4 linked regions of the Homo sapiens genome follow. The protein of the gene in region 1 interacts with the protein of each later gene in a pairwise test. Each region holds a gene or a part of one and is shown on either strand. Other genes may lie near its edges. The genes, in order: PSTPIP1, UBE2W, TULP3 and ZNF175.

Region 1 (7,800 bases):
GGAAGTTCCAGGGGCTCCTGAGGCCCTGGAATGAGCTGGTCCTTGGGAAGGGCCGGGAACTGCATCAGCCTCTCCCCACAGTCCACTACCTCCCAGAGGCAGGGCCTTCTTGGTTGAAGGGTGGCTGAAGAGTGGTGGCATGGCGGTGGGGGCACAGGCACCATGTGAAACCCACAGACCCTTGTGGATGCTCACAGGGCACATGGCCTCCCTCAAAGGCCTGGCTACGAGGGCTCCCTAAGCTGGCTATAGTGCTCCCAATGGGCTGTCACCTTCGTCACTCAAGGCCTGAACCAGGAGAGTCCTTAGATTCTGAATCTGACCCCAACACTCAGGGCCCTGGCCTTAGAGAGTGTGAATGACTTGCCCAGGTCACACATTGAGGCCCAGCACTAGGACCTTGGCACTTGACTGCAGCCAGGCCGGGGAAGGAGCCCTGGAAAAGCCTGGAGAATTCTCCAGATGCCCCAGTCCTGCTCCAGCCAGACAGCGTTGCCACTGCAGCCTGACAGGGCACCAGGCTCACATGAGGCCCCAGGGACAAGGAAGCCAGCATAGGGGCCTCCCCAGAGCTCGGAGCACCTCCCCTAGTGAATAATTGGGGTGTGATTATTCTAGTGTCTGGGTCCCTTGGGCTGAGGGTTCCATAGGCTGAACTGAGCCTATCTTGTCTCCACAGAGTGCCCAGCACCTAAACTGGGCACCAGATACAGACACATAGTAGGTGCTCAGTGAACGAGGAAGGGCCAGGTGCAGAGGAGGGGCTCGACCCACTTCCTGGCCCAGCCTTAGGCCCTCCCTCCGTCTGTCGGGGCCTCACCTCTTTATCATGCCGCAGGACGGCTGTATGCCAGGGCTGCTGGTCAGCGGGGTGACCTCCCGATCGTAATAGTTCTGGTAGGGCACCGGAGCTGCAGACAGCAAGCCGTGAGCCCCAGGGCGGCCCCCAACACCCCATTCTGGCCCTGCCAGACTCAGCTGGGGCCCTACATTCCCAATCTGGCCCTGGCCCATCCTGGTGCCTGAGGAGGTGCCTGTCTTGCTCCCATGAGAGACCCCACCGTAGGTACCATCAAGACCTAATATTCTGGACCCGTGATCCAGTGGAACCAAACAGGCGGGGAGTGGGGGCCGTGGGAGCTCCTCACCTCAATCCCCATCCCCACCTCTTCCTCTGAGTGCCATCATGCCCTTAGCTTTGCCTGAGAGGAGGCAGCAGGCCTGGGACCCAACTCCCCACAACCCCTGCTAGGGCTTCTCTGCCCTGAAGGGAGCTGTGAGCTACCCCAGCCCGGTCCTGGCACTTGAGGCTCAGGGCCGGGCCTTCCCAGGGGCTCAATGCACCTAGAGGCTGCGCTGTCCGCAAGCCGGACCTCACCGGGGGGCTCTGTGCCCGTGCTCTTGGCCTGGATGAAACTGTCGATGTCGGCGTCTATGCTGCAGCCTTCCAGCGTCAGCCGCACTTCCTCGTAGAGCTGGGGCAGGAAAGAGCAGAGGCCGCAGCCCGATGCCCACTCTGCCCCTCTGTGGGCCTGAACTCTGACCAGCGGCCCCCACCCACCGGCCTCCTCACAGGCCATTGTGCGCGGCTCGGGGTCTTTGATCCTGAGGGGTCACGGCCCTGGCTGACAGCTTCCTGTTTCCTGAACACCTTCTGTGTGCAAGGCCCTGTGCAAGGGACTTAACTCACACCTGTCCTCTAAGGTAGACCCCACTTTTCCCATTGGATAGATGAGGAAACTCAGAGGAGAGTGACTTGCCCAAGGTCACAGCGAGAATGCAGCACAGCCAGGCCTTGGGGCTAGGAGAGTGGGTCCAGAGCTCGCCCTTCTACCTCAAGGAGGCGAGGAGGCAGCAGGGGGCTCGAGTCACTTGGGCAAAAACAACAAGAAAATCAACCCCCACAGCCCCGGACAGGAGCGTCAGGCAGGAAACACAGCAGGCAAGGGGGCCAGGGCTGCCCGGGAGAGCCGTGTGCTGGGCTGCATCCATCCACAGAGCTCAGGGACCCTGGCTGGGGGCCCTCTCTGCTGGGGAGGACCCACCCAGCAGGTTGGGCTCAGTAAGGGGAACCAGGACACCCTGGAGATGTGGGGAGCAGAGGAAGGACTGCGCCTCGGCTCCTGCAAGCACCAGGCCTAGAGCAGAGCAGCCACGGTCCTCCAGCTTCTGCCAACCTCTGACAGCTGTGTCCACCTCCCCTCCCATCCCCGGCAGAGGGGGCAGGTGCTCTGTGGCTCTGAGGCATAAGGAGGAAGTCAGGGGAACCACAGAGTCATCATCTTCCAGGCAGAGAAGCCATGGCCCTGTGTGGTACTGAGCTCCTGTCTTGGGGTTCTGGGGGCAAAGGCTGAGCTGCTGAGGCCTGAGACCCCTGGGGCCAGGCTTGGATCACAGAGGACCAGGTGCTTGTTGACCGGCTCAGATGGACCTGGGTGCTTTGCTGCCTAGAGGCTGCCCTACCTTACCCCACACCAAGGCCCTCAGCCCCCACCTCATCATCCTTGACACACTGCATGGAGAGCTGGTTGCTGTGCACCCACAGGGCGTTGCGGAGAATGGTCAGCCGGTCAAACTCTTGCAGCTGAAAGGCCTGGGGGCAGTGGGAGGGAGGTGAGCAGTGAGGAGGCGGCTGCAGGGCCCGGCCAGGCTGGGCCCCATTCACAGCTCAGCCGGAGCTGACCAGGCCAGCCCTCTCTGCTGGAAGCCCAGTCCAAAGGAGAGAGTGCCCTGGGGTCCCCATCCCGACTCCGGGCCAGCCCTGAGGCTGCAGGGAGGGAGGTGGAGATGCCCAGGGGGTCCCTGCCCCAGCCTCCCTTCAGGCTGCACCACACCGAGGCAGAAGGGTAGTGAGAGGGACCTCGGACGGGAGTCCTGAGCCCTGTTCCCCAGGCCCTGTCCATCGGCAGCACCCAGAGAGGCTGTGGGTTTAGTCCAAGTCCCAGTTTTGGCTTCAACAAAGAGGGTGGAAGAATGCCTGCCTGCAACGAAGGGGCCCAGGACTCAAGGCCAGGCGACAAGCAACAGGGCCAGGGCCCAGCACAGGCCTGTGAGCAGGAGGCTGAATAAACGAGTGAGTAACAGGTACCTTCCCCAACTGCCTCACTTGGGCCCCTTTAAGCAGCTGGAGTAGGGATGGGCGTCTCACACTTCCCAGCTGGGGAAAACGAGGCTCCACGTGGGCCACTCACCTCACAGGTGGTCCGGTGCTCCTGCTCCCACTCAGCCCGGACCTTCTCCAGCTGCGCAATGCTCTGCCTGTATACCCGCTCTGAAAGCGCAGGCAGCCTCAGGGAGGGCCCTGACACGAGCTCCTCCACCCCTGTACTCCAGCAGGTCCCATCCTGGATGCCTCCTCCCACTGGGAGCCCCGCCTCCCCCATGGGACCTGCCCTAGCAGATGGCGGGGCCTCATCTGAATGCCCGTCAGGGCCACCCACGCTGGTGCTGCTGCTGCTCCCCAACTGTGCTCTGAGCTGCCTGAGGGCTGGAGTGGAGCCTCATATATGCAAGTCCAGAGTATTGGCCTCTGGGCATCTCTGGGCGCCCCACCTCACTTTCCAGAGGGGAAACTGAGGTTCAGAGAAGGCAGCTGAGAGGGCGCTGGAGGAGGGGTGGAGTCCCACAGGCTTGGGTCACAACTTCTGTGCCCAGATCTCTGGAGGTCACCTGTCCCCCAGCCGAGGGAGTAGCTGAGTCCCAGTAAAGGCAGAGCAGAAGGGAGAGGCCTTCCCAGGGGAAGGGAGGAGGGTGGGTGCTGTGTCTGGTGGGTGGGGCACCAGCAGGGACAAGAGTGTTGGTAGGATTCGGGCATCAAGTGAAGGACAGAGGCCCAGAGAAGGCTATGTGCACAAGTCCTGGGCTCTGAAGCCCGATGGCCTGGGTTCAAATGCAGCTGTAACCTGGGGCAAGTACTGGACCTTTTAGTGCCTCTGTTTCCTCATCTGTTAAGAAAGGGAACAGTAACAGCAGCCACCTCGGAGGGCAGCTGTGAGGACTGAACACATGAAGCGCCAAGAAGGGCTGGCGAATGGGGGAACACAGCGTTTACTTTGACGGCACATATCTGGAATGAGAGCGCCGCGCCCATGATTGTGCAGCCAGGGGGAGTGTGTGTGTCCCCAGGGTGAGGAGGTGTGTGTGGGGAGTACCGCCCAGGCCTCCGCCCTGGTCGGACGGGGCAGCCAGGCCCACATACCTGCCTCGGTGGCCGAGTCCTTGCACTGCCTGGCTTTGTTCTGACTCTGAGGAAACAGAGGGGAAGCAGCGCTAAGCCCCTGCCCCAGGAGCCAGGGCCCACCCCAGCAGACCTGAAGTGACTGTCAAGCTTCCCCGGCCACCCTGGGGGGAACATTCAGGAGCCAACTATGGGCAGATGCCATCATCCACAAGCAACCTCCGCCCACAGAGGACCACAGGCTAGCTCCATGGAAAGAGAACGAAGACAGGAACCGAGCCCAGGAGGATGCCTGTGAAGAGTGAGACCACAACCCACAGGAGAGGTGCAACTACTGCTGAGCCCCCTGGCTGGGACTTGGGCTCTGGCCCCTGACTGACTGCCCCCAGCTCACCCTCAGGCCACTTCCCTCTCTGGGCCTCAGCCTTCCTGTCTGTGCAATGAGTGATGTGTTTCCTGGGCTCTGGGAGCTCTGATACCCCCACTCTGGCCTAGGGGCCACAGCATCAGGAGCATGGGCTCTAGACCACCTGAGTTGGGGGTCCCTTTTCTGCTGCTTCCTGGCTCTGAGACCTTAGACAAGTCACTTACTGTGAGCCTCAGTTTCCTCTCTGTGACATGGGCCTACTGAGCCCTTCTCCAAGGTTGTGTGAGGGTTGGCGTCTGCTCTCATCACCCTGTGGGCCTCAGTGGGCCTGCACCGAGGAATGGGTCCCTGAGTGCCGCCTGACGGTGGCAAAGGGGATCCAGCTGACCTGCCTGTCCATGGCCTGAGGTTCTCTCCAGGAAACCCATTTCACAGATGGGGAGATTGGGGGTCAGAGAGGGCTAAGCAGCATCCCCAGATGCAGATCTTGCCTGGGGGTGTCTACGGCACCCCTTCCTTGCCTCCCCCACTGCCCCCAGCCCTGGGCGACCCACACGGCCCAGCAGCCCAGCGCACCTTCTCCACCTGCTTCTGGTGGCCGTTGGCGCTAATGCGCTCGAAGGCCTGCTCCGCGTCGTCCGCGTCCCGGCACTTCTGCTCGTATGTCTTCTTGGACTGGGGGTGTGGAGGGGCGTGACTTGGGGGCTGCACAGCCCTGTTCTGTGGTCCCCGGGAGTGAGGCTCCCTTAGCCCAGCCTCCCTTTTTCCCTGGCGAGGGTTGCGGGTGGAGTGGGGGCATCCTCACCAGGGACAGGGATCTGGGGGTCCGGAAGGAGATAGAGAAGGCGTGGGGGCTGCTGGTAGTCCTGCTCTCAGGCCCTCCCCACTGAGGACAGCGCGGCCTGCCCCGGGCCCCGCCTCCTGGGCTGTGCTCTTCGGCGAGGGCACGCCCCTCGCCACGCCCCTCGCCACGCCGCGCCCTCTTAGGAGCCCCTCTCCCTTCCTGTCCAGCGTCTCGCAGGATCAAGCTCAGGGGTCCCTCCTCCCTCCACCCCTGGAGTCCCCAGCTGACTTCATCTGCCCTTCATTCACGAGCCCCACAAGGGAAGGGCCCGGGACCATCCCCACGGGGCCATAGCGCCCAGCACGGGCCCAAGCGCCCCGCAGGCTGGTGCGCCCAAGGCCGAGGTCCGAGGACCAAGGCTGAGGTCAGCCTGTTCCAAATGCCCTGCCCGGGGCCACAGCCCAGGATCGCACCCTGAGACCTGCGCTGCTCCTCGAGGGAAGGCCGCGGCCCCAGGCCCTGGCGCTCACCTCCATGGCCTTCTTGTAGAGCGACAGCTTGCTCTTCTGGACCCGGTCCATGACGGCCTCATACTGCAGGGGACACGAGGTTCTGAGCCGAGGGCCGCGGCCTCGGGAGGCTCCCCTAGGCCAAGAGGACGGAGTGTCCCTGGGATGAGGCGCAGCACCTCTCCTGGCTCTGGAGAGAGGGTGACAGGCTGCCCTCCCTCCCCCAGAGCCTGCTGCTTCACAGTGACCCTCACAATGGAAGGCCACAGAGAATCACAGGGCATGGGTGTGCCGTGAGGTCCTTGCTGCAGACCTTGGCCAGAGCTTCGTCTCCAGCTGGGGAGTTCCCACCCCAACACACGTGCGCACACAGTCGTTCATCCTGCATCCCTGAGCCTCTGCAGGCATCACAGTCGCTCACACGTGTGTGTACACTCTGGCACACACATACATGCAGAGTTCCACATTAACTCGGAGGCACACAGGCCCCATCCCTAGCTGCCCACACGCATGATCACAGGCATTCCTGTGCACACCCACAGATGCCACTCACAAGTACACACTCCCACAGTCACCCACACACAACCACAGGCCACATGCAGGCACAGTGGCCACTGGGCCCCTGTGCCGAGGTCTGGGGCCAAAGCCTCCCCTCACCTCCCAGGCTTCCTGTTCTGATAGAGAAGGCAAAACAGCCAGGACAGCGACTGGGTTATGAGGTAGGAGGAGAACTGAGCCAGTTTGTGCCTGGGGTCTCAGGGGAGGGGTTCTGTGCCAGCTGGGAGACCAGCGAGGCACAGGCACTCACACACACACAGCACAAAACACCCAAGTGCACAGGGCTGGACAAGGACACATGCTCACAGGCATATGCAGGGGAGCGTAGGCACGTGTGCACCATCCTGTAAGCACATGTCCTTGCTCTGTGGCACACGCACATACACACACAGGCTCAGACACACATGGCACACACTACAACACAGCGCTCTGCCTGCGGGGCCCTGGCCACTTGGAGAAAGAATGCTCTGTCCAAAACAGCCTTTGCAGCCAGTGCAGCTCCTCTGGCCACAGGAGGGCCCAAAATAGCAGGGCCGGGGTCCCTCCTTCCTGGCAGGTTCTCTGCAGGCTCTGCGGGCACGTCCCAGCTCAGAGAGGGTGCCTGCTCCGGCACCTCAAGCCTGGGCTGGCTTCTGGGGACCCCCTGTCTGCTCAGAACCCCACATTTAGAATCCTGAAAGCCCAGCTGGCAGATGGGCAGGTGGCACGGGCAGCCACGCTACATTTCTGCCAGCAGAGCTGCTAACCAGAGCTGGAGCCCTGTCTGTGGAGACTGAGGGGCGCATGGCTTGGGCTGAGCTCCCAGCACTTGGGAGGTAGACATATGTGTCCCATCCTGTGAGAGGGAAACTGAGGCACAGAGATGGGAAGTGGTATGGCCAGGACACCCAGGCCTAGCCTGGCCCCAGCCTCAGGTACAGCTTCTTCCCCTTCAAGGCTCAGTTGTGACTTTTCATTTTCAATTCTTTGGCCACTTCACAACGATCCTTCCTCCCCAGGCAAGAAGCGGATCTGTGTGCTGCCCTGCCACCCTGTGCAGGGCACCACCCTCATCACTAAGGCCCTGAGAGGCTCAGCCCCCATCCTCACAGGCCCAAGCCCAGCCTCCAGGCCAGTCTGCGTCCTGCCTGCCCTCCAGGGAACCTATATCCAACTTCAGCCCTGCAGCCTCCCTGACAAGCATCTGCCAGCCTCTGCTTACACACCTCCCATGATGGGGACTTCACTTCCATGCAGTCACTCTGTCTCGGGACAGCCATGCCCTACATATGGGTGAGAAGTACCTTTGGATGCTAAGCAATGCCATACAACTCTCCCACCCCAGTCTGTGTCTGACCCCTCAGCCTTGGGCAGTCCTGTGGGGTGACTGGCTGCAAGTCTGCCTTTTTCCAGGACAATCAGCCCT
Region 2 (7,800 bases), on another chromosome or scaffold:
CAGGCCCAATGCCTTTTAAAACTCTGTACTCTCTCCCCTCTCTCAAGAAACAGTATTTGATACATAATTCATGCCCAATACATGTTGAATTAACCAACCATTTACCTGTATCCTAGCATAAAAAAGCAGAATATGTACATAGAAAGCTATTTTCTGTATGGCTGACAGTAAGTGTACATTAGCGGCAAGCAGTGATGAAAAGATGCCTCATCTCTGTTTCCATATTAACAGACAAATTGTTTGTTGTTATTCTTTCTTTTAAGGCAAATGACTGAGCCAAACATATTTTAGAGAGGTAACTTTTTCATTATAAGGCAGGACACAACATGAGACATAAAATATAACTGGCAGGAAGAAAAACACAACAAACCATAATGGTGTGTGACAGTCTTACTGATCTCATTTACAGGTACAAAAGCAGTAATTTCACAATGAGATTCATCTATTCTAGAAATATTTTCCAAATTCTACTCTTGTAACTAGTGATAAACTCAGTACTGTTCATTGCATAGAAAGATGAAAGACTTTTCTTTCTTTTTTTTATTAGAGATGGGGTTGCCCTACGTTGCCCAGGCTGGTCCCAAAACTCCTGGGCTGCCTTGGCCTCTCAAAGTGCTTGGATTACAGGCATGAGTACCATGCCCAGCCAGAAAGATGAAAGACTAATTTAGGTAACAAGTGCTAATGCTACAGAGTTTCATCAAATAAAATTTTGGGGGAATTTTACTGCCCTAGAGGACTGGTTCTAGCCACTTTCCCAGGGCAGTGGATCTCTGCAAAGTTTCAGTTATTGGAAAAATCTTGAAGTCTATAAGCACATCAAGCATTGATGTTTGACCCATTATAATTATGTTAAAACTATATAGATTATGTATAAATACATTTTAAAAAATTTTAACGTATTACTGGCCTCAGAGTAGTTCTGCCATTTTCCCAATCAATGGATATTAGAATATACAACCTCTATGCCATGTGAGGGACTACAGAATTAACTGATATTAAAAAGGAATCCTCACTGGGCGTGCCTATGATCCCAGTACTTTGACAGGCCGAGGCGAGCAGATCACTTTAGGACAGGAGTTCAAGACCAGCTGGACCAACATGGTGAAACCTTGTTTCTACCAAAAATACAAAAAAAAATAAGCCAGGCATGGTGGTGCATACCTGTAGTTGCAGCTACTCAGAGAGGCTGAGGTGGGAGAATGGTTTAAGCCCAGGAGGCAGAGGTTGCAGTGAGCAGAGATCACACCACTGCACTCCAGCCTGGGCAACAGAGCGAGACTCTGTCTCAAAAAAATAAAAAACAAACAAACAAACAAACAAACAAACAAAAAAACAAAATAAAAAAACCAAGCCAGGCATGGCGGCAGATGGCTGTAGTCCCTGCTACTCTGGAGGCTGAGGTGGAAGGATCACTTGAGCCCAGGAGTTGGAGGCTGCAGTGAGCTATGATTACACCACAGCATAGGTAGATGACAAAGGGAGACTCTGTCTCCGCACCCCCACCCCACCAAAAAGTAAATTAAAAAAGGAATCCTTATATTTCAAAAAGAGTGAGAATAACTGACCTAGAGCTTTCAAAGGTACCATTCATTCCACATATAATCTTTCACTTTCAGAGAGAAAATTACTACATAGATAAATAGGCATTTTTTCCACACCGGTACTCGCATCTAATTGGCAGTATGGCAAAGGAGGAAAGGAAAGACTTGGGTTTGGGTCTTGACTGTCCTATAAACTAGGTATTAAAACGTGAACAAGGCACTTCACTTCTACAAGTTTCAATTTCTTCACATATAAAATGAGGATGAATCTACCTCCCCTAACCACTTCATTAAAAGATGTTAGAAAACAAAATCAGAATGGAAGTTAAATTATGAAGTACTATATAGAAATATTACCATACAGAATGCATGCAGGTGCAGAAAAAGTTAAGTTTGGATGTGACTATACAGGGACTTGAATGCCAGGCTAAAAACTTGATTCCATAGGAAATAAACATTAAGAGGTTTTACTGTCAGGGGGTGAGGAATTCTGGGGATGGTGGAGTGAGACAGAGTGTGTGTGTGGTGGGGGGGTGGAGTGGGGTGTGGGAGTGTGTGTGTGGGGGGGGGGGGATGTGTGTGCATGTCCATGTGTGTGGTATGTAACCAGTGAGATAACTGTGCCTTCAAACAAATCTATTGGCACCGTGAAAGGATGTAGGAATTCAAAGAACTAAAGGCTACTGTAATGGTTCAAATAAAAGATAAAAACCTGGACTAGGCCAGGCATGGTGGCTCACACATGTAATCCCAGCACTTTGGGAGGCCAAGGAGGTGGGCTGATCGCTTGAGCCCAGGAGCTCGAGACTAGTCTGGGCAACATGGCAAGACCCCATCTCTACAAAAAATATAAAAATTAGCTGGGTGTGCCATCAGATGGCCAAATCATTATTTACTGGACCAGACCTTTTCAAAACTATCAAGCAGATAGTCAAGGCCTGTAAAGTGTGCCAAAGAAATAATCCCCTGCACTGCAGGCCATACATTTCAATCCCTCTATCTTTAACCTCCTTGTTAAGTTTGTCTCTTCCAGAATTGAAGCTGTAAAACTACAAATCGTTCTTCAAATGGAGCCCCAGACAGTCCATGACTAAAATCTACCACAGACCCCTGGACCGGCCTGCTAGCCCATGCTCCAATGTTAATGACATTGAAGGCACCCCTCCTGAGGAAATCTCAACTGCACAACCCCTACTACGTCCCAATTCAGCGGGAAGCAGTTAGAGTGGTTGTCGGCCAACCTCCCCAACAGCACTTGGGTTTTCCTGTTGAGAGGGGGCACTGAGAGACAGGACTAGCTGGATTTCCTAGGCCGACAAAGAATCCCTAAGCCTAGCTGGGAAGGTGACCGCTTCCACCTTTAAACACAGGGCTTGCAACTTAGCTCACACCTGACCAATCAGATAGTAAAGAGAGCTCACTAAAATGCTAATTAGGCAAAAACAGGAGGTAAAGAAATAGCCAATCATCTGTTGCCTGAGAGCACAGAGGGAGGGACAACGATCAGGAAATAAACCCAGACATTCGAGCTGGCAACAGCAACCCCCTTTGGGTCCCCTCCCTTTGTATGGGAGCTCTGTTTTCACTCTATTAAATCTTGCAACTGCAAAAAAAAAAAAAAAAAAAAAAAAAAAAAAAATTAGCTGGGTGTGGTGGCATGCACCTGTAGTCCCAGCTGCTTCGGAGGCTGATATGGTAGGATCACTTGAGCCCAGGTGGCAGCAGTTGCAGTGAGCCAAGATTGCACCACTGCACTCCAACCTGGGTGACAAAGCGAGACGCTGTCTCAAAAAAAACAAAACAAAAACAAACAAACAAAAAACCAGACTACAGCACTGACATTAAGAAAAGAATGGGCTACCTTTCAAATGTAGGAGGGAGGAGTGTGGAAAAGAGAAAAACTGAGCACAAAAATAGACAGGTGGACAGTAACCCAGGATAAAGAAAAACAAAATGTTCTTTGTTATTGGAAAGATCAAGTTTAGTTGTGTTAAATTTGAGATGTCTGGAGGTACTCAAGTATTTCAACAAGGGTGTGAAATTAAGCCTTAAAAAAAGAAGTGTTCCCAGAGCTGTAGATCTGGGAGTTAGCTGCTTAAGGTGACTGAAGGTGAAAGAAGAGTGAGAAGAGTAACACAGTGCTGAATAAAGAACCTGGATAACACCAATGTTAGAAGAACAGACAAATAAAATCAGGGAAGGAGGATAAAATGAATTTGAAATAGGACAATAGGGAGAATTTATTACAAATGCTGTAACTTACAGAAATATTAAAGAAGAAATTCAACATAATGTTTAAGTTTGATATTTGATTTAGAATTAAATATTAAGGAAAGAGTTTAGAGAACACATTTTTGACTTGGTTTCATGCTTACAGAAATATTATTTTCCTCTGGTGAAAAATCTGTAAGCTCCCAGAGTAAGCCTTCCCCCAATATCTCCCTAGTCAAAAGCTTTTGAATTGGTGTGAAATATTCTTCCTTCCCATACCATCATTGAACTTAGTTGAAGGTAGACAAATAGGCTGATGATGAAAACAGACTGAGATCCTGTTGTCTCCACACATTTACAGTCAGAAATGATGCTGGCCAGCCAGAAAGCAACAAAAGTGATGACAATCTTCTGGAGAGAAGATGTTTGTTCTTTTTATTATAGTCTACAAATGCTTATTGTAGACATCTAGAGGTCACAATAGCACATACCCTTTCACTTTAACTTTTATGAAAATGATAAAAATAAGTCCTAAAAGTCTTGGTAGTTTTCTGCTCATATGAAAATTTTAGAACTTAAGGAGTCAGTATCCATTTAAATCTATGCTTTAAAACAATTATCTCTTTACTTATAGCATGATACAATAACTGACTTTATCTCTTCTCTTACATAACTAAGAAAAGATTAAGCTGTGTTTGGTATATTGTTTAAAGTGACAATGAAATATGATTTTCCTCCAAATAGTACATTTCAGCACCCAACAAGCAAAATTTTCAGTATCTGGGAAATATTTCAGGTATTTGGTTGTATTTTCCAGAATAGCTCATTTGCTAGCAATACTAGAGAGAGCTGGCATCATGTCTTACCATTTTAGCCAACGGATCTCACAAGCCTCAAATTTTAAAAATGAAGTGCTTTGTTATAATTCTCTGAAGAATAAGTAATTATAGTAACTCATTTACTTATCTTACCAAGCCAGAAACCTGGAAGTCATCCTAGAGTCTTCCTTTCTCTAACCTGATTAATCATTTACTATAGTTAAATAGCTCTCAAAAAACATTTCTCTACCACCATTATCCCTTGTCTAAGTATTAAGCTATTAACTAAACTCACTGGGCATCAAATTATAATAATCAGACTTTGTGCTGATGTTTAGATATTTAACATCTGATGATGTACTCTGCCCTTCCTGTACTAAAAGGCTGCAAGGACAGCATGTCAATGCAAAATCATAGTACTCCTTCCAACAGAGAACTTTTCTCTTCACCATGTGATTCTACCATCTGACCTAGGAGAAGTGCCTCCAGTTATTCCAAAATGTCAACTTCTCCGATGGCCTAGAGCAGTGGTCCCCAATCTTTTTGACACAAGGGACCGGTGTGATGGAAGACAATTTTTCCATGGATGGGGTTGGGGATTGGATGATGGTTTTGGGATGGAACTGTTCCATCTCAGATCATCAGGCATTAGATTCTCATAAAGAGCGTGCTATCTAGATCCCTCACATGTGCAGTTCACAATAAGGCTCGTACTCCTATGAGAATCTAATGCCATCGCTGATCTGACAGGAGGCAGAGCTCAGGCAGTAATGCTGCTCACCTCCTGTGTGGCCCGACTCCTAACAGGCCATGGACCAGTACTAGTCCACAGCATGGGGGTTGGGGACCCCTGGCCTAGAGGCCTGGTTAGATTTCTATTCCCTTTTCTGTTAGCATTTATGGATAAGCAACAAATGAAACAATTTTAGAAGCAAAATGCAGTAAAGCCCTAATCCCAATAAAGTGTAATGTTCATATCTTGATTATATGACAAATAAGATAATGAAATAACAAATCCATCTACATACGTATAACTGATTTATATGTTTTTACTGAGTCAAACATCTCTGGCATTTAGCTATCTAAAAATACAAAAAAAAAAATTTAAAGCAAGGCAATTACCTGAGGAGAGTCAAAAGGATATCGACTACTAAATTTAAATAGAAGTTGAAATTTTTCCCCTTCATATAAGGTACCTGGTGCACCTTCCATGTCTACAATCCACCTAGAATAGAAAAGGCAAATTAAAAACTTAAGATAATAGAGACTGGGGTAAGGAGGAGAAAAGAGGACACCAAGTACTTCCTATACACTAAGCACTAGGACAAGAGTTGGTTATGTGTAACAGCACATGCCAGCCTCCCAATAACTCTCTTACTGTTAATTCTCATGACCTATCCCCTTCTCTGACACTCAGCGGTGAAATAACCAGATCAAGGTCAGACAGCTAGCAAAAGACAGAGCCAGGTCTAAAAAAGCAAACTAAATAAAACCCAAGGCCGGGTGTGGTGGCTCACACCTGTAATCCCAGAACTTTGGGAGGCCAAGACAGGCAGATCACGAGGTCAGGAGTTTAAGACCAGCCTGACCAACATGGTGAAACCGGTCTCTACTAAAAATACAAAAATTAGCCGGGCATGGTGGTGTGCACCTGTAATCCCAGCTACTCAGGAGGCTGAGGCAGGAGAATCGCTTGAACCCGGGAGGCAGAGGTTGCAGTGAGCCAAGATCATGCCACTGCACTCCAGCCTGGGCTACAGGGCAAGACTGTCTCAAAATAAACAAACAAACAGACCTCAAACTAAGGTGCACTGACACCAAAGCCTGTGCTCCTCCTAATTGATTTATACTACCTTATTTTTTCAAAGTACCATTTCTACAATGCTGATATTACGTATTCTATACATAACATCAAACAAAGCAACTGCCTCTGATTATTACTGGTGGAAGCCATGGAGAAATACGTATAGACAATGACCACAGAGAACCGTAGCTGTCAGACTTATTTTTTTCATCAACATCCTAGAGAAGATTAACAGGGCAAGGGGAGCTAAATTGACATCAGTCCACTTACTCTGATGATTAAGCAAGGCTTTGTGGTGACTTTCCTTTATCTCTCACTATGTTTCAATTGTTTAATAAAGCCCATTTCTATGCCATCTATGCAAGCCTTTGTTTTCATATATAACAATCATAAACATAAATGTGTTATTTACAGTTTATATACTATTCTTGTTATTTTCTTTAAGATGGGAAGAATAAGGGATAATGACAGCAAAGATAACAGGGCAGCATTAGAAGCAAAAGTGAATTGAAGTCATTAACAATGTGTTCCTAATTATAGCTCTGTCACTTATAATTCTTGTACACCTGGGCAATTCTCTTGAACTTTTCAGTTATTAAACTTTCTTGTATTTAAAATACAAGAAAACAAAAGGAAGATAGAAAATACAGTGTTGGGATTCTAGTCATCACCACGCATACTATGAACCTTGGATTATGTAAAATAATAAATGTACCTATTCTCTAAAAGAAATCAGCTACAGTATACAGACTCTTAAGAGCATGGCTATTCATTTTAAGAATGCACGCTGAGTACCATACATGGTAATAAAAGATACGACCACAGACCCAAGAGACAATATTTTATAGTGAAATTAGACAGTTATAACTGAAGTTATACTGAAGTCGCAGTTATAGTTAATCTTAACTCATTGTGTGAACAAGTTATGTTATCTCTCCAGTTTTAACTACCTCAATAATAAAACAGAAGATAATCACCTCATAGTGTTGTTGGAAAGATAAATGACCCTACATACGTAAAAAACCTAGCACATTCCTGACTCAGTCAATACATGGTAAATTAAATGCAATGCAAAAGCTGCATACAAAACAAAAAACTATCTCTTTATATATTAGGTCCTTCTTAATCTTCGAAATTCCTTTCTTATTTTTCCACCCACATCCACTAGGCACAGTGATATTCCCAGGAAAAACGGTGGTCTTTCATTCTGTTTATATGGTAATTTTAGGACACATAACATAAATTAACATGTAACCTATACAAACAAGCACAGCTTTTAAAAATAAAGAGCTAAGCAAGTATCTCATCAATCCTTGTAATATCTGCATGACATGCAGATACTGACACGAGGTCAAAGGCAGCATAACTTTCAACATGGTGCGTGGTACTTTCTTTTTTTTTTGGTACAGAGTTTTGCTCTTGT
Region 3 (7,800 bases), on another chromosome or scaffold:
AAAGATTACAATTGAGTAAGGAGACAAATTGCCTTAAAATCATTACCAGTCCTCACCATGCTTTTGGAGACGCTCCTGAAGTCCTGGCTTGGAAGCAGTATCCACGGTGTTTTCAGCATCTTCTTCCACAACAGAGGAGCTTACTGATGGAGCATGAACTTCGTCTGGTTTCAGGACAGCAGCTGGACCATCAATACCTAAGGGCCAAAATAAAATGAATTTTAAAAAAGGAGCAAAGTATTATTCACTAGTTGGGTAGATTTGGCATATGTGATCAGAATTAAGAACTACCAAATCATTTTATCTGCCCTCCTTTCTTAACATCCATAAGAACATTTGTTAAGAGAGAAGGTCAGAACTGGTGTTCTTTTTTTCTGAGACAGGATCTCACTCTGTCACCCAGGCTGGAGAGCAGTGGTGTAATCACAGCTCACTGTAGCCTCGACTTCCTAGGCTCAAACGATCCTCCCACTTCAGTCCCCCGAGTAGCTGGGACTACAGGTGTGTGCTACTACACCTGGCTAATTGTTAATTTTTTTGTAGAGATGGAGTCTTGTTATGTTGCCCAGGCTAGTCTCAAACACCTGGCCTTAAGTGATCTGCCTTTCTGGCCTCCCAAAGTGCTGGGATCACAGGTATAAGCCACCACGCCCAGCCTGGTGTTCATTTTATTAACATGCTCTGTTACTAAAGTCATATGTACTTGTACTTCAGTAACTGAAGTAATATGTACTTCAGAAACTTAAGAATGAGACCAAGAAAACAAAGTAGGTCCTCCATAGTACAGATCCTGTACAAGCCAATAGCTCCAGTGGCTTGATTTAGAGGCACTTACAATCTTATTCTTCCTCCGCCCCTCCCCATCTCAGATGATCCTTTCAACTATCTGTTGGAAGAATGGACGCTCTCTACCTATTCCCGGCTTCATGATTCACCTCTGCCACGATTTAACAATCAAGAGCTCCTCAAATAGGTCATTCTAAACTCATTCATCTGGCATCTAGAAAACAACAGTTCTTGCCGGGCATGGTGGCTCAAGCCTGTAATCCCAGCACTTTGGGAGGCCAAGGCGGGTGGATCACCTGGGTCAGGAGTTCGAGACAAGCCTGGCCAACATAGTAAAACCCCGTCTCTACTAAAAGTATAAAAAAATTAGCCGGGCATGGTGGCAGGCGCCTGTAAACCCAGCTACTCGGGAAGTTGAGGCAGGAGAATCACTTGAACCTGGGAGGAGGAGGTTGGCAGTGAGCCAAGATCGCGCCATTGCACTCCAGCCTGGGCGACAAAAGCAAAACTCCGTCTCAAAAAAAAGAAAACAACAGTTCTAAAATGGACGCAAACCTTAAGGCATCTTCCACTGATTATATCATTGCTTTTATTCTCCTCAAAGACCCCAAATGTGATTATAAAGATTTATGAAGGTACCTAGTAATGGTGCTAATAATATTGTCCCTTTGGTCCGTCTGACAATCCTCGTGCCTTCTAGGTTTGTGAAAATTGTACCCCACTAGGAAGTGATGCTGCCTAAATACACACCATGTAAGATGACATTGCTGTGGGGAGTATGACAGTTCACCAAGGGAGTCTGCTCATCACTGGCCCTTGGCTTTGCCCGACGTAGCCTGGCTTCTGGATTGGGCTGCACCATAAATGGCTCAAGGCGCTTTTTCCTTTGCCTCTTCTCAAGTAGTAGCCTCTGGGAAAAAAGCGATATGACAGCCAGCAAGGAGAGTTTTGACATGACCTAACCATTTCCAACATGCCCAGTTTGTTTTTCACTGATCCTCACAAAACATCTTGTAAATTATTTTTTCCCCATTTAAGAAATGGGAAAACTGAGGCACAGAGAGGAGTAAGGATTCAATCATTTCATTTAACAAATACTTTTGAACACCTAACACCTATAAAGATCTATTTAAAATCAGATGATGCTTTTTTTTTTCTTTTTTTTGAGACAGAGTCTCACTCAGTTGCCCAGGCTGAGTGCAGTGGCACCATCACAGCTCACTGCAGCCTTGACCTCCAAGGCACGCCCAATCCTTCTGCCTCAGCCTCCTGAAGAGCTGGGACTACAGGTGTGTGCTACCATGCCCAGCTATTTTTTGTATTTTTGTAGAGACAGGGTTTCCCGACATTGCCCAGGCTGGTCTCAAACTCCTGAGCTCAAGCAGTCTGCTTGCCTTGGCCTCCCAAAGTGTTGGGATTACAGGCGTGAGCCACTGCACCTGTCCCACACAGTGCATTTGTAACCAAGTCTACTAAAGATGTATGGGAATCATCATAGCATTATCAAATGTGACCACAAGCTCAAAACATACAAACACACATGCACGGAGGACAGATGGAGGAACACAGCAAGGGTGGTTTCTTCAGGTGGCAGACTATGGCATGATTGTTTTCTCTTTTCTAGTCTTTTTTTTTTTTTAAGTTTTCTTACTTTTGTAAATGGAAGAAAAAAACTTTATTATTCTCTAAAACTCAAATTATTTCCATGTTCTAATTAGTCAAAGGGCAGTAAGTTTGGCATTCTTGTTTATCTTATATAATTAGAAATCAAATTTGGATCAAGGGTGAGAAGAAAAAAATGGCAGTTGGAACATATCAAATAGAAAGCAGTCAACTCTATGAATAAAAGCAAGATAAAGACTATGGTAGCAAGAAAAGTCAGGAAACAAGCATGACAGACTATGAGAAAAAAAAACCAATGAAATGGAAAGGAAGGTACTAGCACATAGTACTAGTACCTTTTGGCAAATAAGGGTTTATAATATATAGAAATTATTATTGATCTGGGATAACTCAGAGTAGGAAAAATGTTAAGCCCCATGCTAAAAAATAAAGACATGATTAAAAAACAAATATATTATAACCCACTTACTACTGTTTTTCAGGCAAAAGAAGCCATCTGTTTACTTTTTTCCATCGATACTGTTTTAGAAAAGTGCCTCCAGGAAGAAGAGTCACTCCAAGGGGTGAGACTATCAAAAAAGGAAGTGTGTTTTTCCTGAACTGGGCTGATGAGAGCACACTGATTAATTCAATAGCTTGCATATAGAGGGAAAAGATTGGGGAGTTAAGATAACGTGCCAATACAGAATATACCATCAAGAATGAATAGGTGTTAGAGCAAGGACTAAGTTGTTTGGAGATTATTTTGAGATTTCATGAATTACCATGAATAGAAGGACATTAACCCAGGAACACTAAATACACAGGAGGCTATAATGACTTCCACCAAACAGAATTGGCCACTGAGATTCTTCTAGCAGCCGGGCGCAGTGGCTCACGCCTGTAATCCCAACACTTTGGGAGGCAGAGTCAGGTGGATCACTTGAGGTCAGGAGTTTGAGACCACCCTGGCCAACATGGTGAAACCCCGTCTCTATGAAAAATACAAAAATTGGCCTGCGTCATGGCGCATGCCTGTAATCCCAGCTACTCAGGAGGCTGAGGCAGGAGAATCACTTGAACCCAGGAGGTAGAGGTTGTGGTGAGCTGAGATCATGCCACTACACTCCAGCCTGGGTGACAGAGCAAGACTCGAGACTCTGTCTCAAAAAAAAAAAAAATTCTTCTAGCAACCAAGAGGTCTTGTATAATGGATAAAAAGTAACTTGCTGGCCGGGCACAGTGGCTCATGCCTGTAATCCCAGCACTTTGGGAGGCTGAGGCGGACGGATCACCTGAGGTCGGGAGTTCAAAGCCAGCCTGACCAACATGGAGAAACCCCGTCTCTACTAAAAACACAAAAATTAGCCGGATGTGGCGGCGCATGCCTGTAATCCCAGCTACTCGGAGGCTGAGGCGGGAGAATCGCTTGAGCCTGGGAGGCGGAGGTTGCGGCGAGCTGAGATTATGCCCCTGCACTCCAGCCTGTGCAACAACAGCAAAACTCCATTTCAAAAAAAAAAGTAACTTGCCTGAAAAGGTGGTAAATATGAAGTACTGAAATCATAAGAAACTGCCATATCTTATCTATGTGGCCACAGCTATTTCATCTCATACATAGTCTGTGAAATGATCGATGAAACAAAATCACATACTGTAGGCTGGGCGCGGTGGCTCACGCCTGTAATCCCAGCAGTTTGGGAGGTCGAGGTGGGCGGATTACCTGAGGTCAGGAGTTTGAGACCAGCCGGGCCAACATGGTGAAACCCCGTCTCTATTAAAAAATAAAATTAGCCAGGCGTGGTGGCAAGCGCCTGTAATCCCGGCTACTTGGGAGGCTGAGGCAGGAGAATCACTTGAACCTGGGAGGCAGAGGTTGCCGTGAGCCGAGATTGGACCACTACACTCCAGCCTGGGCGACAGAGCGAGACTGTCTCAAAACAAAAACAAAAACAAAAATGAATGCTGTAGCTATTTTTTGAGACGGAGTTTCACTCTTGCTGCCCAGGCTGGAGTGCAATGGTGCAACCTCAACTCACTTGCAATCTCTGCCTCCTGGGTTCAAGCAATTCTCCTGACTCAGCCTCCGGAGTAGCTAGGATAACAGGCACCTGCCACCACACCCAGCTAATTTTTTTTGTATTTTTAGTAGAGATGGGGTTCACATGCAAGGAAAATATTTTCTTTTTTTTTTGAGACAGAGTCTTGCACTGTCACACAGGCTGGAGTGCAGTGGCGCGATCTCGGCTCACTGCAAGCTCCGCCTCCCGGGTTCACGCCATTCTCCTGCCTCAGCCTCCCGAGGAGCTGGGACTACAGGCGTCCGGCACCGCGCCCGGCTAATTTTTTGTATTTTTAGTAAAGATGAGGTTTCACCGTGTTGGCCAGGATGGTCTCGATCTCCTGACCTCATGATCCGCCCGCCTTGGCCTCCTAAAGTGCTGGGATTACAGGCATGAGCCACCGTACCTGGCCAAGGAAAATATTTTCTATAGAAAAGGAGTTTTCTGCTGTGGTCTAGAAAAGGGAGGCCAAAGAGCTAGAATTTGATAGGGTTATCAGGTTTGTCCAAGAAAGAGAAGTATCTTTTTTTTTTTTTGAGACAGAGTCTCGCTGTGTTGCCCAGGCTGGAGTGCAGTGGTGCGATCTCGGCTCACTGCAACCTCTGCCTCACGGGTTCATGCAATTTTCCTGCCTCAGCCTCCCGAGTAGCGGGGATTACAGGTGCACCCCACCATGCCCAGCTGATTTTTAAACTTTTAGTAGAGATGGAGTTTCACCATGTTGACCAGGCTGGTCTCAAACTCCTGACCTCATTCCCTCTGATTCCTTGCTCACCAATAAGCCTTCTAATTTGAAGTTTAACTTCTTAGGTATCGTATTCCCAGGAAAAGAGTATTATGAACAGTAGACATGAATACACACTGAAAGAGTAGAGCTCCCTTTATAAATTAATAACTTGGGGTTCTGGTTTTAAAACTTACTGGTGTGGGTTTAACTAGCGTGAATTTGTGCCAAAGGACCTGGTTATATCCAGTTCACTGACAAACTAAGCTCTCACTTGTTAAGGGGAGACTAGACCCCTGACCACAGTGTTCCTGCCAAGGTATCTGGGGAAGCCTCTCTCTATCTACTTACAGACAAATCAAACTCATTTAGACCAATGACTTAAGAAAAAAACAACTGTAGACTCAAACTGTAATCAGGGCCACAGCTACTATACCTCAGTATTGAATGATCTTACTACTGTCCAAGTTTACAAATAAGAAAAATACCATTAAACATATATGTGCAAGCTGCCATCTTGGTGAAAACCGTCATGCAGTTTGGATGGGGGAGGAGAGAAGTGCTACTTGTGTTTGAATGTAACAATGTCAATTCCTATTCCATCTATATTTTACTTCCCTGAAAACCTAAAAGTGCTTTAAACGAGGCTACATCAATGAAGGACTCATTACCAAGATAGAGTAAGTCAGGGAGCCAGGAAGAAAGCCAGAGCTGATGGTTAGATGCCCTAAATGCAATTAAAACACACTGCCTTCGTGATTTTAAGTGTCATATAAACTAAAACTTAATCACTTTTAAATTTCCTAATTATCTTGGGAATTGAACTGTAAAAGAATCTATCTTCCCAAGAATTTAGTGGTATGTCTTACTATCCTGCTAAAATATTGAATGGTGATGTCAAAATAAACAGTAAGAAATTAAAGGAGATCAGATAGGTGGAAATTTCCATGAAATAACTTTATCCAATAAAATAATAAAGCTCTGACCGGCGCAGTGGCTCATGCCTGTAATCCCAGCACTTTGGGAGGCTGAGGTGGGCCGATCTCTTGAGGTCAGGAATTCGAGGCCAACATGCCGGAAACCCCATCTCTACTAAAAATGCAAAAATTAGCTGGATGTGGTGGCACAAGCCTGTAAATCCAGCTACTTGGGAGGCTGAGGCAGGAGAATTGCTTGAACCCGGGAGGCAAAGGTTGCAGTGAGCCAAGATCGCGCCATTGCACTCCAGCCTGGGCAACAGAGCAACCATCTCAAAATAAATAAAACTTCATTTAAATTAATGATAGTTTAACTAATTCTCAATTTTCCTAGACAAGGAGTCACCCTAGAGGTGATGGGCTAAGGTTACACTATGACAGTTTTCCAACAGACTGACCAACCACAGAGTACAACCAGCATCAGGCTAGTTGTCTGCAGTCTATCAGTTTGTTTAAAAATCTCGGCCGGGCACGGTGGCTCACGCCTGTAATCGCAGCACTTTGGGAGGCTGAGGCGGGCAGATCACGAGGTCAAAGGATTGAAACCATCCTGGCCAACATGGTGAAATCCCATCTCTACTAAAAATTAAAAAAATTAGCTGGGCGTGGAGGCATGCGCCTGTAGTCCCAGCTACTCAGAAGGCTGAGGGAGGAGAATCGCTTGAACCTGGGAGGTGGAGGTTGCAGTGAGCCTGAGCTGAGATTGCACCACTGCACTCCAGCCTGGCGACAGAACGAGACTCTGTTTCAAAAAAAAAAAACAAAATAAAAAAACTAACTTAATCTCCCCGCCCACAAAGCAAGATCATAGGAAGGTAAGACTAAAATTTTTAAACTAGACTTCTTAAAATATCATTCAGTGCAGTGATGACCTCTCATCATACAAATAGATGAGCAACTTGGCTCAAAGGAACTATGTTGTACTTTAATCCATTTTCATCAGACGAAATAAATGTACTCTACCTAATATGCATCCATGTCAGAAATATCACAGCAAGAATCAGAAAATCCATTCTGGGCTGGGCGCAGTGGCTCACGCCTGTAATCCCAGCATTTTGGGAGGCCGAGATGGGTGGATCACTTGAGGCCAGGAGTTTGAAACCAGCCTGACAAACATGGCAAAACCCTGTCTCTACTAAAAATACAAAAAATTAGCCAGGCATGGTGGCGTCTGCCTGTAGTCCTAGCTACTCGAGAGGCTGAGGCATAAGAATCGCTTGAACCCGAGAGGCAGAGGTTGCAGTGAGCCAAGATCATGCCACTACACTCCAGCCTGGGCAACAGGGCTACACTCTTGTCTCAAAAAAAAGAAAAGAAAAGAAAATCCATTCTGCAGCTTGCTAAGGTGCCCACATACCCTGAAAACGAGTATCTTGCCAGGTATGGTGGCTCACACCTGTAATCCCAGCACTTTGGGAGACCAAGGTGGCTGGATCACTTGAGGCCAGGAGTTCAAGACCAGCCTAGCCAACATGGTGAAACTCCATCTCTACGAAAAATACAAAAATTAGCCAGGCGTGGTGGTGCACTCCTCTAATCCCAGCTACTCTGGAGGCTGAGGCACAAAAATCACGTGAATCTGGGAGGCAGAGGTTGCAGTGAGCCAAGATTGCGCCACTACACTCCAACCTGGGCAACAGAGAAAGAC
Region 4 (7,800 bases), on another chromosome or scaffold:
CGTAAGCTTCACCAACTCTAAGTAGCATTACCTTCTACTCCTAGGTAGAATTTGCCTTTCCCTAATTTGCCCTTCCCCAACAGTGTCCTCTGCATATATTTCTACCATGTTCCCTTTTTAACCCTGTAGTTGAGCTTTTGTATTTACATGTCTTCCAAGTCTCTGAGTTGCTGCAAGAGTAGAAGCTTATGTAATTCTGTGTTGAGCACCAGAACCCAGCTCAACTACAGCCTCACATGTAGTTGCTTCGTCAACATCATGCTGGTTATTCCTAAATTAGCTAAAGGACTTAGAGGGAACCCATTTCTGGCCTCATTTTTGAAAAAAAAAAATGAATGAATGAATGTAGGTGTACAGTGGATGGAGGATATTTCTCTTATTTTTTTTTAAATCCCTAAAAATGTGAAATAGGTGTTTGGTGGGAAGCCTCTGTGATGGATCGTGGTGAAAATCATTAAAAGCATGTTCCTCCTATATGTGCCATCCCCACTCGCCAATGATGACCTAATTCACAGTGAGCTGGGGTACACTGTTACAGGCATCAGTGTCATTTGAGGACGTGACCGTGGACTTCAGCAGGGAGGAGTGGCAGCAACTGGACCCTGCCCAGAGATGCCTGTACCGGGATGTGATGCTGGAGCTCTATAGCCATCTCTTCGCAGTGGGTGAGCACAACTGACCTGGGAATCTTGGCTGGATCCTGTTGAGGAGATTTCCTTCCTCCTCATTGCAGAACGCAGTGGGATATCAAAGTATGTCATGACTCTTTTATCGGTTTGTCCTGGATTGTTTGTTTCTTTTGGGCACCTTCTAGTATTATTTTGTGCCCAGTGGAAAATGTTGACTTTTCTAATGAGCCAGTGTAAAGCTTCATTGAATGGCCTCTAAAACTGAAGAAGCTACACCCAAATCCAGTATCCTTTCTAATTAACAGGGTATCACATTCCCAACCCAGAGGTCATCTTCAGAATGCTAAAAGAAAAGGAGCCGCGTGTGGAGGAGGCTGAAGTCTCACATCAGAGGTGTCAAGGTGAGTAAGTTGTACCCGGGCAAATGTAGATATCTTTGCAGGGAACCATTACCAGTCTACCATACTTTTCTATTCCCTCCATTCCCCCAGTGATGGCCCGTAGATTGCCTCCTACTCCCAGTTTCCCATCAAACACTGTAAATGTGCTATAAATGTTAAATGTCCTATAGGGGCTGCCTTAAGAATTTTCCATTGGTGAATACTCAGGAATGGGATTGCCTGGTCCTGGAGATAAGTATACTTGACTAAATCAACCATATTGCTCTTCTGATGGGCTGCACCAGTTCACACTCCCCATGTGCAGTGCACAAGGATTTGCATTTGCACATCTTGCTTGCTAACACTTGGCATTAACAAAATTGGTGAATTTATAGCCCTACTGATAGGTGAAAGGGCTGTTTCATTTTTTTTTGTTTTTGGTTTTGGTTTTTTTGAGACAGAGTCTCACTCTGTCACCTAGGCTAGGGTGCAGTGGCACGATCTTGGCTTACTGCAACCTCTGCCTCCTGGGTTCAAGTGATTCTCCTGCCTCAGCCTCCCGAGTAGCTGGGACTACAGGCACCCGCCACCACACTCGGCTAATTTTTTGTATTTTTAGTAGAGACAGGGTTTCACCCTGTTAGCCAGGATGGTCTCGATCTCCTGACCTTGTGATCTGCCCACCTCGGCCTCCCAAAGTGCTGGAATTATAGGCGTGAGCCACCGCACCCAGCCTGTTTCATTGCTTAAGTGTTATTTTTCTAATAACTGAATGGTGAGAGCCTCTCATCTTATCTGTTATCTGATTGGCTTTTTCATTTGTTTGTTGCATTTTCTTACCGCTTATCTCTTTACGTCCATGGAGTTTTCTGCCTTTTTTTTCCAGTTTTTTTGCCCCTAATTTTATTTATTTTCTTTTCTTTGCTGGATCTGCTGTCTTCTTTTCCTCCCAGTTGTGGCACCTCTAGCTTGGGGCCCTGTTCTTCCATATGGGCATCTTTTCTTTTTTTTGAGGCAGAGTTTCACTCTTGTTGCCCAGGCTGGAGTGCAATGGCACGATCTTGGCTCACCGCAACCTCCGCCTCCCAGGTTTGAGTGATTCTCCTGCCTCAGCCTCCCAAGTAGCTGTGATTACAGGCATGCACCACCATGCCCGGCTAATTTTGTATTTCTAGTAGAGACGGGGTTTCTCCTTGTTGGTCAGGCTGGTCTCGAACTCCCGACCTCAGGTGTTCCGCCTGGCTTGGCCTCCCAAAGTGCTGAGATTACAGGCGTGAGCCACCGTGCCCGGCTATGGGCATCTTTTCCCACAGGAATTGACTTAAAGGACCCATCCATTCTGAACTCTTAGTCCTCATATTTTTATTCTAATGATTTATATATCAGTACCTCTAGTCCCTGTGCTTAAACTGTGTTCTGCTACCTTACTTAGCTCCACGGAGGACAGTTCCCATGAGATGACTCACTTCCTTAATTTTGGGAGATCAGAAATTGGAATCATCATCATCCAAATAAGGAATTCTCACCTGATAAATTTTGTGAGATTTTTCTGTTTCTGGGCTCAGAAACACAGTCCTCTAATTTAATTTATTACTTTGGAATTCTTACCAGTTTTTCTTGTTTTAATTAAGAAAAAAGTGACCCTTTTTCTTAATCCCAGTGGTATTACAACAAACTAGATCCCCATTTTCTCATATTTAGACAATTTTGTTCCCAGTGAGATATGTTGATTTCAGGTTTTTGAGTTTAGTCAAGATACTGACAGATTTTATGACCCCAAACATGGCTATTTTGTTTCTTTTTTCCTCAGTAGATATGATAAAAACAGGCAGTTCTATTTCCTACTGTGTAGGATTAACAAATTCTTTTCAGTGATATTGTCCTCATGGCCACATATTTCCAATTTAAAAATATACCTGAATAGTTTTCATCACTCATGCTCTGCTCCATTGTTTTTGTATGTTGTTTAATGTCTACTCCATAGAATGATTCACTTTGCATACACTCTGCTGATTACTTTGTACTTTCTTAATCTTCATTATATCAATGTTTAGCATGAGGAAACCATTGTATTTAAGATATAGGATTAGGATTTTTGTATTTAGGATACAGAAATTACTGATTTTCTGAAAATGGGCAGAAAAGAATATTTCACAGTATTTTAAAAGGATGCTTTAAATATTTGCTGAGATAAATTCAAAAGAACGGAGATTGTATTTGGATGGAGAGGACAATGGCATTAAATGTTAAAAGTATTAGCCTTTGTGCATCAATCATGTCTATTTCATGGAAGGCTACTCAAAAAGTAAGTGTATCAACATGGGAAGCATGGATAGCAAATGCTGGTGAAGTTCAGAAAAATGATGTCAGCCTAGAGGTGGAGTGACATTGGGAATTAATTTTAAGGGCATAGTACCTATAACTGGTTCAAGAAGCCATTTTGAATTGAAACAAAGAAGCAGATGAAGCAAGCTTAATGGGAATAGAGGACATGAGAGTGTGCTTGGATTTGAGAATAAATTGGACTTCTTTTTTGCAATCGACATTGTTAGGCTGTGTTGGAGAGTTGTGGAAAAGCTTTTCAGTACAGTTCTGATAGTTTACATTGAACATTTTGGGCAGTAATTTAAGTGTTACCAGGTTCAGCAAGATTTTTATGACCTGAATAAAGTGAGAAGTTAAAAATGTTTCAGATCGCTGCCTGGGGACACAGTGGAAGATTGCCAGAATAAATGACCACCTGTATATGGGTAAAATTGCTATTTAAGAGTGAAAAATGAAATAGAAAACAACCTATTTTAATAAGTGGGAAAAGGATGTGAATAGACATGTCTTCAAAGATGATATACAAGTGGCCAATAATAGGAAAAAATGCTCAACTTCACTAATTATGTGGGAAATGCAAATCAAAACCACTGGGTGATATCCCTTTACATCCATTAGAATGGCTACAATTAAAAAAACAGAATAACAAGTGTTGGCAAGGATATAGAGAAACTGGAATCCTTGTGTATTACTAGTGGGAATGTAAAATGGTGTAGTCCTATGGAAAACAGGATGATGATTTCTCAAAAATTAAACATAAAATTACCATATGATCCAGCAACTCCACTTCTGGGTAGATACCCACAAGAATTGAAAGCAAGGACCCAAACAGCTGTTTGTACACTCTTGTTCATAGCAGCACTATTCACAATATCCAAAAAGTGGAATTGTCCATTGACCAATGAATTGGTAAACAAAATGTGGTCTATACATACAATGAAATATTATTCAGCCTTAAAAAGGAAGAGGAATTATGAAACATGTTGCAGTGCGGATGAATCTTATCATGATGCTAAGTGAATAAGCCAGACACAAAAAATCCAAATGTATCATTCTACCTGTATGAGGTACTTTAAGTAGTCAATTCATAGAGACAGAATAAGATTGTGGCTGCCAGAGAATGAGGGATGGGGGAAAAGGGAAATTGTTTAATGGATACAGCATTTCAGTTTTGCAAGATGTAAAAGTTTTGGAGATCCATTGCACAACAGGGTGAATACAGGTAGCACTACTGAACTGTACAATACAAAATGGGCAAGATGGTAAATGTAATATTATGCACTTTTGCTACAATAAGAAAAAGTTAACAATAAAGATTAAAAGTGTCCTTTTTTTAAAAAAAGAATGAAAGATGATTGAGTTTTTTTGATAGGACAAGAGTCTGGGATACAGTTTAAGTGACTGAAAGCGAAAAGAAACTACATGTGATGTTCATACTCAGTATTAAAATCTGGTAGAAAAAGTAATAGTAAAATTTAGTAACTATTATTTTTATTGAGAACCTGCTGTGTTTTGTGCAGTATACTAGTAAAGTGCACAGGATGATCAGGGACTCTTATTCTTGGCAAAAAAACAAAACAAAACAAAAAACTAAACTAAAAAAGGCATATTTGATAGCATAAAGCCAAAAGTTCTAACAAAGAACAATTAATTTCAATGGAACAAGGGTGAAACAAATTCTGGGGAACAGCTTGCTTGTCCAGTCTTTTAGAATATATTTCTGGGGATATGGGTATATTCCTAAGTTCAAGAAAAAAAAATTGTAGCTTCATGGAGAGTTGAGGCATAGGAGAGTTGAGGCATAGTCATTCTTTCACTGGTTGGCCATGTCAAGATAGGTGAAGCTTTAATAGTTTTCAGAAGGATATACAGGGCTGATGGACTTGGCATTGTTTCTAACAAGTAAGATAAAGCAGGCAGATTGGTGAGGATTCATCTCTGAAAGTTAATGAAGACCTACACACTGAGCCCCCTCCTTCAAGCCTTGGCTGCCCACACATGTTGCCCTGCAACACTTGTCTGTTTTATCCTACTCATCCTACTAGATCTGGGTGTCTAGACCACTTGCATAAGTGTCCTCAGGTTGTTGAAATCTAATCCCCACAGATTAGCAAAGTGATCTTGGCCAATTACATAACCATTATGTGCTTCCTTTTCTTTGTAAAACAGGAACACCCATCATCGCTACCTCCTGAGGTTATTATGCAGATTAAATGAGTATGTGTGCACCATGTAGGCCACTGCCTGGCACATGCTAAGTGCTATGTAGATAAATGCTCATCATGTAATAAGGGCTCTGTGTTTCTGCTCATTGTCAGCATCATTAGCAGCATTATTACATGACTCAGCAATTTCCTTGTGTTCTGTGTCAATCAGCTTCATGCAGTTTCTCCTCTTTCTTGTTCATTGTGTCTATTTCATCTTCTCTTTCTCCTTTTAGAAAGGGAGTTTGGGCTTGAAATCCCACAAAAGGAGATTTCTAAGAAAGCTTCATTTCAAAAGGATATGGTAGGTGAGTTCACAAGAGATGGTTCATGGTGTTCCATTTTAGAAGAACTGAGGCTGGATGCTGACCGCACAAAGAAAGATGAGCAAAATCAAATTCAACCCATGAGTCACAGTGCTTTCTTCAACAAGAAAACATTGAACACAGAAAGCAATTGTGAATATAAGGACCCTGGGAAAATGATTCGCACGAGGCCCCACCTTGCTTCTTCACAGAAACAACCTCAGAAATGTTGCTTATTTACAGAAAGTTTGAAGCTGAACCTAGAAGTGAACGGTCAGAATGAAAGCAATGACACAGAACAGCTTGATGACGTTGTTGGGTCTGGTCAGCTATTCAGCCATAGCTCTTCTGATGCCTGCAGCAAGAATATTCATACAGGAGAGACATTTTGCAAAGGTAACCAGTGTAGAAAAGTCTGTGGCCATAAACAGTCACTCAAGCAACATCAAATTCATACTCAGAAGAAACCAGATGGATGTTCTGAATGTGGGGGGAGCTTCACCCAGAAGTCACACCTCTTTGCCCAACAGAGAATTCATAGTGTAGGAAACCTCCATGAATGTGGCAAATGTGGAAAAGCCTTCATGCCACAACTAAAACTCAGTGTATATCTGACAGATCATACAGGTGATATACCCTGTATATGCAAGGAATGTGGGAAGGTCTTTATTCAGAGATCAGAATTGCTTACGCACCAGAAAACACACACTAGAAAGAAGCCCTATAAATGCCATGACTGTGGAAAAGCCTTTTTCCAGATGTTATCTCTCTTCAGACATCAGAGAACTCACAGTAGAGAAAAACTCTATGAATGCAGTGAATGTGGCAAAGGCTTCTCCCAAAACTCAACCCTCATTATACATCAGAAAATTCATACTGGTGAGAGACAGTATGCATGCAGTGAATGTGGGAAAGCCTTTACCCAGAAGTCAACACTCAGCTTGCACCAGAGAATCCACTCAGGGCAGAAGTCCTATGTGTGTATCGAATGCGGGCAGGCCTTCATCCAGAAGGCACACCTGATTGTCCATCAAAGAAGCCACACAGGAGAAAAACCTTATCAGTGCCACAACTGTGGGAAATCCTTCATTTCCAAGTCACAGCTTGATATACATCATCGAATTCATACAGGGGAGAAACCTTATGAATGCAGTGACTGTGGAAAAACCTTCACCCAAAAGTCACACCTGAATATACACCAGAAAATTCATACTGGAGAAAGACACCATGTATGCAGTGAATGCGGGAAAGCCTTCAACCAGAAGTCAATACTCAGCATGCATCAGAGAATTCACACCGGAGAGAAGCCTTACAAATGCAGTGAATGTGGGAAAGCCTTCACTTCTAAGTCTCAATTCAAAGAGCATCAGCGAATTCACACGGGTGAGAAACCCTATGTGTGCACTGAATGTGGGAAGGCCTTCAACGGCAGGTCAAATTTCCATAAACATCAAATAACTCACACTAGAGAGAGGCCTTTTGTCTGTTACAAATGTGGGAAGGCTTTTGTCCAGAAATCAGAGTTGATTACCCATCAAAGAACTCACATGGGAGAGAAACCCTATGAATGCCTTGACTGTGGGAAATCGTTCAGTAAGAAACCACAACTCAAGGTGCATCAGCGAATTCACACGGGAGAAAGACCTTATGTGTGTTCTGAATGTGGAAAGGCCTTCAACAACAGGTCAAACTTCAATAAACACCAAACAACTCATACCAGAGACAAATCTTACAAATGCAGTTATTCTGTGAAAGGCTTTACCAAGCAATGAATTCCTAGTGCATCAGCATATTCATAAATGAAATATACTCCGAGTTTCTTGAAGAAGAGAAAATCTTCTCAGAATCAGGTCTAATTATATGTTATTGAATTCATGCTTCAGAAAAACTCTAGGGATGCACTGCATGTGTGAACACATGATAAAAAAGTCATGCTTTATTTTAGTGAGGGCAATTA

Evidence for each region.
Region 2: the proteins of PSTPIP1 (region 1) and UBE2W interact in binary tests that used the Homo sapiens proteins (3 or more experiments, as listed by UniProt).
Region 3: the proteins of PSTPIP1 (region 1) and TULP3 interact in binary tests that used the Homo sapiens proteins (3 or more experiments, as listed by UniProt).
Region 4: the proteins of PSTPIP1 (region 1) and ZNF175 interact in binary tests that used the Homo sapiens proteins (3 or more experiments, as listed by UniProt).

Annotation. Positions count from the first base shown.
Region 1 is NC_000015.10:77,025,973-77,033,772, reverse strand, and holds part of PSTPIP1 (proline-serine-threonine phosphatase-interacting protein 1), read right to left. Parts: intron 7,658-7,800; coding exon of another isoform or gene 7,601-7,657; intron 5,974-7,600; exon of another isoform or gene 5,922-5,973; coding exon 5,859-5,921; intron 5,220-5,858; coding exon 5,121-5,219; intron 4,245-5,120; coding exon 4,199-4,244; intron 3,272-4,198; coding exon 3,192-3,271; intron 2,594-3,191; coding exon 2,495-2,593; intron 1,476-2,494; coding exon 1,379-1,475; coding exon of another isoform or gene 1,345-1,378; intron 912-1,344; coding exon 821-911; intron 1-820. UniProt on the Homo sapiens protein: Involved in regulation of the actin cytoskeleton. May regulate WAS actin-bundling activity. Bridges the interaction between ABL1 and PTPN18 leading to ABL1 dephosphorylation.
Region 2 is NC_000008.11:73,819,452-73,827,251, forward strand, and holds part of UBE2W (ubiquitin-conjugating enzyme E2 W), read right to left. Parts: intron 5,799-7,800; coding exon 5,696-5,798; intron 1-5,695. UniProt on the Homo sapiens protein: Accepts ubiquitin from the E1 complex and catalyzes its covalent attachment to other proteins.
Region 3 is NC_000012.12:2,914,659-2,922,458, reverse strand, and holds part of TULP3 (tubby-related protein 3), read right to left. Parts: intron 1,697-7,800; coding exon 1,537-1,696; intron 198-1,536; coding exon 57-197; intron 1-56. UniProt on the Homo sapiens protein: Negative regulator of the Shh signaling transduction pathway: recruited to primary cilia via association with the IFT complex A (IFT-A) and is required for recruitment of G protein-coupled receptor GPR161 to cilia, a promoter of PKA-dependent basal repression machinery in Shh signaling.
Region 4 is NC_000019.10:51,580,853-51,588,652, forward strand, and holds part of ZNF175 (zinc finger protein 175), read left to right. Parts: intron 1-538; coding exon 539-665; intron 666-934; coding exon 935-1,030; intron 1,031-5,774; coding exon 5,775-7,615; 3' UTR 7,616-7,800.